Homo sapiens: one gene and its partner. The protein of the gene in region 2 purifies or fractionates together with the protein of the main gene of each other region. This does not show direct contact. Each region holds a gene or a part of one and is shown on either strand. Other genes may lie near its edges. The genes, in order: RASA4 and CLK4.

Evidence for each region.
Region 1: the proteins of CLK4 (region 2) and RASA4 purify together in Homo sapiens (affinity purification with mass spectrometry, with the first as the bait; one large-scale study listed by BioGRID). This does not show direct contact.

What each region holds. Positions count from the first base shown.
Region 1 is NC_000007.14:102,589,188-102,593,003, forward strand, and holds part of RASA4 (ras GTPase-activating protein 4), read right to left. Parts: coding exon 3,807-3,816; intron 3,268-3,806; coding exon 3,098-3,267; intron 1,110-3,097; coding exon 972-1,109; intron 1-971. UniProt on the Homo sapiens protein: Ca(2+)-dependent Ras GTPase-activating protein, that switches off the Ras-MAPK pathway following a stimulus that elevates intracellular calcium. Functions as an adaptor for Cdc42 and Rac1 during FcR-mediated phagocytosis.
Region 2 is NC_000005.10:178,602,807-178,606,622, forward strand, and holds part of CLK4 (dual specificity protein kinase CLK4), read right to left. Parts: intron 2,577-3,816; coding exon 2,497-2,576; intron 1,129-2,496; coding exon 1,038-1,128; intron 952-1,037; coding exon 811-951; 3' UTR 1-810. UniProt on the Homo sapiens protein: Dual specificity kinase acting on both serine/threonine and tyrosine-containing substrates.

The DNA of each region.
Region 1 (3,816 bases), on a different chromosome or scaffold from region 2:
CTCCAGTGATCCTCCCACCTCAGCCTCCCAAAGTACTGGGACTACAGGCATGAGCCGACATTTGAAACATGTATTTATTGGCCCATCTTCTCCCAGGGATATCAGCTCCATGAGGGCAGGACTCTGCCTCATCTGCCACTGTATCCCCTCACCTAGAATCATGCCTGGAACCTAGGAGGTGCTCAGTAAGTATTTTTTAAATAAATGAATGAATGAGTTAATGAAGGAACAGATGAGAAGGTTACTTGAGAACATGCACCCAGAGCCACACACAGCATAATGTTTGATTATTAGGCATTGATACAGACACAGAACCACACAGGTGCCAGCTCAGACTTTCTGTTTTAGAGAAAGGGTCTTGCTCTGTTGCCCTGGCTAGAATGCTGGGATTATCCGTGTGAACCAGCGTGCCTGGCCCCCATCTCAGTTATCTGGAAATAGTTTCCAACAAACGGGTGCAACGTGCAAATTTCACATCACGGGGATGCACCTGTCTGTGCACTGGCCCACACACAGACCTACACATGGATGCCCAGGGAAAGACATGGGCCATGGCCTCCTGGGGGCTCAGGCCCCTGGACAACACACACACACCTGTCCCTGACACCTCCCAGATTAGACACACCCTGCGGTGCCTGATGTAGCTGGTAGCGGGGCGAGAAGCTCAATCAACTCTTTTCTCATCCAGTCCACTCAGGCCCCTCCCACAGCACCCAGGCCACTCCCACAGAGCTCAGGCCACTCCCATAGCACCCAGGCCATTCCCACAGCACCCAGGGCATTCCCATAGCATCCAGGGCACTCCCACAGCACCCAGGCCACTCCCATAGAGCTCAGGCCTCTCCCACAATACCCAGGCCACTCCCACAGGACTCATGCCACTCCCACAGTACCCAGGCCTCTCCCACAGCACCCAAGCCACTCCCACAGTGTTCAGGCCACTCCCACAGCACCCGCTCCCCTCCCCGCACCTTGCACTGCAGGTAGGCAGTCTGGGGCCTGCCGGCGTCGTCCGTGTAGATGACCTGCATGACGTGCGAGCCGCCAAAGCTCTTTTCCTCAACCTTTTCCGCTGCCCGGATGTTGGCTAACTTGATGAGGGCGCTTTTCTGGGGCAGGCAGGGAGGAGGAGGCTCAGGGACCTAGCCAGGGGCATTCCATTCCCCATCTCTGGGCCTCAGTCTCCCCTTCTGCAGCACCAGGGGTAGGCATGGGAGACCTAGAGTGACCTCAGCCAGGGCAGAGCACAGACTGATGGTGACCAAGTGCCCAGCAACTGGGAGAGGAGGACCTGGCCTCTCTGGGGGGCACTCCCAGAAGGCCTCGGAGGTGTGAGCTTTGGGGTAGTGTCGGGACAGCCAGCATTCCCTGGGCTACAAAGTCAATCCGGCCGTGGCCAAGGCTTTGTGACTTTGCATTTATTAATTTTCCAACTTGCTTTTGTAGTCCCAGGCTCTAATAGTCATATCCTGACCGGGCGCAGTGGCTCACACATGTAATCCCAGCATTTTGGGAGGCCGAGGAAGGCGGATCACCTGAGGTTGGGAGTTCGAGACCAGCCTGACAAACATGGAGAAACTCTGTGTCTACTAAAAATACAAAATTAGCCGGGCATGGTGGCGCATGCCTGTAATCCCAGCTACTTGGGAGGCTGAGGCAGGAGAATCGCTTGAACCCGGGAGGCGGAGGTTGCGGTGAGCCAAGATCGCACCATTGCACTCTGGCCTGGGCAACAAAAGCGAAACTCCATCTCAAAAAAAAAAAAAAAAATGGGACCAGAATTAAATAATGCCCATGTAGTCAAATCTTTCAACCCTGGCAAGGAAGATGTATAATAATCATCTGAGTGCTTTGGGAGGCTGGGGCAGGAGGATTGCCTGAGGCCAGGAGTTTGAGAACAGCCTGGGCAGCATAGCAAGACCCCATCTCCGCAAAAAAAAAAGTTAAAGAAAATTAGCTGGGCTTGGTGGCACGTGCCTGTAGTCCCAGCTACTCGGGAGGCTGAGGTAGGAAGATTGCTTGAGCCCAGGAGTTTGAGGCTGCGGTCAGCTATGATCGCACCACTGCACTACAGCCTGGGTGACAGAGCAAGACCCTGTCTCAAAAAATAATTATCATCATCTGAGGGGTCTTTGGTCGGAAGGGGCGGGCCCCTCATCTGGTGGGACCCCTGAGCTGGTTGAGAACAGGGTGGGTGATGAGCTCCTTCACCTACTCCTAGCCCGCTCTCACCTGCCCAGGGCTAGGCTGGGTACTCCTGGAAGATCATCCCCATAGCCTGCATGACTGGGGGCAGGTGTACAGCAAGCAGTCACCAGGTCCATGGAGGAAGTATGTCCTCAGCCCTTCCTGGGAGAAGAGAGCTTGCAGGAGAGGTGACCCATGACTCAGAGAGGGCTGTACAAGGTGATCTTTGAGATCCCTTCCCACGCCAAGATTCCGTGCTTCTATATTCCTGCCTCTTCCAGGAAGCCTCCCCTGTTTGCCCTAGCCTCCTACTCATCTAGCAGCCCAGGTGATATACTATCTTTAATAATATCATTTGCCTAAATAGTACTACCTGCCAGGCCCTGGGTCAGGACCCTTAGGGAGATCATCTCATTTAATCCTCAACAACCTGGTAAGGTCGGATCAACTTCCTCCATATTCATTTTTTTTTTTTTTGAGATGGAGTCTTGCTCTGTTGCCCAGGTTGGAGTGCAGTGGCACGATCTCGGCTCACTGCAACTTCTGCCTCCCAGGTTCAAGCGATTCCCGTGCCTCAGCCTCCCGAGTAGCTGGGACTACAGGCACCCACCACCACACCCGGCTGATTTTTTGTATTTTTAGTAGAGACGGGGTTTCTCCATGTTGGCCAGGCTGGTCTCAAACTCCTAACCTCAAGTGATCCACCCGCCTTGGCCTCCCAAAGTCCTGGGATTACAGGCGTGAGCCACCGTGCCCGGCCCTCCTAGGTTCTGACAAGCAGTACAGATGCCACACACCTGGCTTTCTTCTCTGACCCCGGGGGTACCTCAAGTGGGCTCCAAGGAAGGGGACAGGTGCCCCACTTGCCGGCCTCTCAGAGCCCCACTTGCCGGCCTCCCTCCTTACCCACCTTGGAGCTGGGCGTCTTCGCGAAGCTGAGGGCCTCGGTAGTGAGGGAGAAGTAGAGCTTCTTGAAGGAGGAGGACATGAGGGGGCCCTTGCCCTTGGTCCTGTGGATGAAGAGTGGCCCCTCCTTCACAGGTGGCGCCTGCAAACTCAGCGTCCGCTGCAGGTCCAGCTCTGCCAGGCCAGGGAGGGAGGGGAATAGAGAGCCCAGTGAATGAGGGCGGGACTGGGGGGAGCGGAGCAGTGGGAGGGGCCATGGGGCTCAAGGGCTGAGCAAATCTGAACAGCAGGCAGTGGACGTAGTCATGGGGCTCAAGGGCGGAGCAAACATCAACAGCTGGTGGTGAGCGGGGTGACAGGTGGACTGAGGAAGGCAGGGCCATGGGCTTGGAGGCGGGACACGCGTCAGTAGCAGGTGGCGGCGGGGCTATGGAGCTCAAGGATGGAGCAAATGTCAACAGGCGCAGATGATGGGGGGGTGAGGCCATGGGTCTAGGGGTGGGGCAAACGTCAACGGCAGGCAGTGGGCAGGGTCACAGGAAGCACAAACAGTGGTGCGTGGGTCTATGGCCTGGGGGCCTGGCAAATGCCAACAGCAGGCGGTGGGTGGGGCCACGAGAGGAACAAACAGCGATGGGTGGGGCCGTGGGGCTCAAGGGCGGAGCAAACGTCAGCAGTAGGCTGTGGGCGGGTCTGTGCAGGGCGGCGCTCACCGTCCTTCTC
Region 2 (3,816 bases):
CTTATAGGTTTACGTATTTATGTCATTTGATAAACAGATGCTGGCCAATGTTAAGACTCCTAAGGACTTGGTATTAAAAACTGAAACCTCTCATCAGAATTTCTATTTTTATATCTGTGACTCACCAAACATACTTGGAAATGTCCATTTTCCAAGCTGACTTTCCAGTTAGATTTTAATCTTAAATAAAGTGTGTATGTGGTTTTATTAAACAAACTGTCACAATGGACAAACTGCATGCCTTTCCATGAATGTCTGGTTATCACCCTGACATCACCCAATGAAAAAGAATACAACACTTAAAATTTAATAGAATTCTAACAGTAAACATTTTCTGAGTTTTGGTTTCTAGTACCTGCTTATCTAGAGTTAATAATAATCACCCGTTCAACAATTACAGAAGAAAAACTTTTAAAGTTAAGTTCTAAATTTGAAGTATATAAAGAATATTCCTTTAAGAATATAAAGTAGTCAAGATTTCCTTTTACTCAAAAAAAATCACTTCAGAGGTGACCTCCATGTACAAAAGGCAAGATCAATCACATTTATCACTGGACACAAAGGATATTTCAAAGGTATTTAAAAATGGTAATTTCAAAAAGAAAAATTAATTTTAATTTTTCTAATGCATTATCAAGACCATACTTGCTTAACAAGTTAATTATGCTATTGATACAAAACATACAATATTTACACTTAACTGTACAAAATAATTTAATGTTTACAAAAATATTAGAATGTTTAGTTGACTGACACAGTCTTAAGTAATCTCTTCTAGAGAAGTATATAGTAAGACCACTGATTCCCATTTCATTTCTTTTTTAATAAGTCAAAGAAAGGATGCTGCAATGCTTCATCCAAGGTAATTCTTTGAGTTGGATCATATTCTAACATTCTTCGAACCAGGTCAAACAGTTTCTCATGTTCTTCATCATGACAAAGCATAAATTCCTGGGGGAGAAATGTTTTTGTTTTAAAAAAAATTATTAATAGTGCAAACACGTGGTTTATTTAACCTTTAATCTTTTTTCTTTTACCTTCAACGGTTTGCAGCGTCTCCTAACATATCTACCAGCAGAACTGTGTTCATCCCAATCTAGCTGGTTATGGTGAAAATACTTGCGTTTTCTACAGAAAAAAAAAAAAAGTCTGGATTAGTAAAATAACAAGAGTCGTATCTTTACCCTGCACCCATGAGGGGAGACATGGAAAGCAGCTCTCTCTAAGTGTATAGACTTATATAATATAGATGCATACAATTTTTAAAAACCTCAGCAACAATTATATATCGGACACCTCATATCCTCCACCCTGTGAGGTTTTAGTCTCTCAACTAAGTTGTTCCTATCACATATGGAACAATGTCAGCTTAAAACTAGGGGCCCCCTGGATCCAGTCCTAAAATTCTGTTTTCACTAGATCTAGAATGGGGCTGGAAATCTTTAAAGAACTCCCTCGGTGGCTTCTGCGATGAAGCTGTGTTTGGAAATACCACCTTGTCTAAGAATATACAGCTGGTTAAGGACAGAATAAATTTCACACTTAGAGTGATATGATTCCAAAACACAAGCTTTTCCATATTCTATGTATTATTTTTACATCGCCTTAAGAAAACACTTATGCAAACGTAAACTTGAGTTAAAAAAAAAAAAAAAACAAAAAAAACCCAAAAGCCATTTTGTTTACTAGATCAGTGGTCCTCAACCCTTTTGGAACCAGGGACCGGTTTCATGGAAGCAGATCCGGGGAGGAGGGATGATGGTTTGGAATCAAACTTCCACCTCAGATCATCAGGCATTAGATTCTCATAAGGAACCTTCATGCAACGTAGATCCCTCACGTGCGCAGTTCACAATAGGGTTCACATTCCTATGAGAATCTAATGCCACTGCTGATCTGACAGGAGGTGCAGCTCAGGCAGCAATAATGCTCACTCACCCGCCACTCACCTCCTGTTGTACAGCCCAGTTCCGAGGGGTTGGGGACCCCTGCACTAGATCACAAGGTAAATATTTTTTATTATATTAGTTTTTAAAAACATGGCCTAGTGCAGTGACTCACACCTGTAATTCCAGCACTTTGGGAGGCCAAGGCAGGCAGATCACCTGAGGTCAGGAGTTCAAGACCAGCCTGACTAACACGGTGAAACCCCATCTCTACTAAAAATACAAAAATTAGCCAGGCATAGTGGTGGGCACCTGTAATCCCAGCGACTCAGGGGGCTGAGGCAGAAGAATCACTTGAACCCAGGAGGCAGAGGCTGCAGTGAGCTGAGATCGTGCCACTGCACTCCAGCCTGGGTGACAGAGTGAGACTCCATCTCAAAAAAAAAAAAAGGAGTAAGATGAAGTTAGAAGTTACCTCCAGTACAGAAAAAAAAAAAAAAGTCAAAATCTATAGTCCTTGGAATCAGTATTACAACAACGTTGGGTTTTCTGTAGTTTGAATATATGCTATTGCACATATCCAACAAAAGTCTTGAATCTTAAAACATACCTTGTTTTCTGAATCATGTGTTGTGGTATGGGTCCTAATATTCGTTCCATCATTGCCAGGTGCTCTTTACTATCATGAGTCTAAAACATGTAAGAAAAAGAAATTTAGTACTCTCCATTTCCCTACAAACACATTAACTTGTTTAATCTAAAATTTTAGTTTCCTTCTTTATTTGCACTTCTTACACTGTTTAAAGAATAACTGGGCAAGGTTACCAGAAAAACTGTCTCCTCATTTAATCAGCTGCTTAACCAAAATTAACATCCAGTACCCAATGAATAGTTCACTTGTTAACACTTACTACTCCCAGGCAACAGACATACATACAGTCCCAATAATTCTCTAAACAATTCTGAGCTAGGTATGTGGGAACATGAATTTCAAAAAGGTTAAGATACTACCTCAAAGTCATATAGCTCATATATGAGGAAAGTTAAGCTATCAACCCATGTCAAAGCACATATCCTTAAATTAGTAACGGAGGCTTGGCTGAAGTAGAATACAGAAAACGGTCAAACTTACAGCTGGAATGGTATGCTTCTAGAGCAGAGGTTGGCAAACTTCTGTAAAGGGCCAGATAGTAAATATTTTAGGCTTGGCTCGTCATGAGTGGTCCCTATTGCATACTCTTCTTCTTTTTGTAAAAACAGGCACCAGGCAGGATTTCACCATGGGCCAAAGTTTGCTAACCCTTGTTCTGGAGAGCAGAGGCTGTATGCAACACTTTTAAAAGAAATCTATCAACTACTGTGCCTTGCATATTGCTTCCAAATCGTTGTGATACATGACAGGAATAAGTAATACTAGCTTCACATTTTAAAGAAATTCCTTAGTTTAAGAGTATTTTGCAGGGTGGAGTTAAAATATAAACCACCTCTCAAATAATATATACTTCATTTAAAACTCAAAGTGATTTATAATCACAAAATCACCGGAAGCATCCATTTCATATTAGTCAGATTGATGAAAGCATTCACTTTGCTTAACTTTTTCTTGACCCTACAGCTCACCACTGCAAAACCAGACAATACCTCCCAGAACTGATTAATAACCATGATTCTAAGACATCAAACTTATCTATAAACTCAGAGTACTTTTCAACAGGATCTCTACAGATTAGACAGAAACAGAAATCTGGCGAGGTGCCCCACGAACAGGGAATTCATCATTGTGCAACAGCTGCCTAAGTGACTCTTAGCCCATCATAGCTGCATGCCCCCTGCACTGCTCTAACTTCAAATCAACCTCAACAGTACTAGCTGGGATCTCCAGCCCCTCTTCCCCAAACAAAACAACACAACACCTCGATCATACCATGAC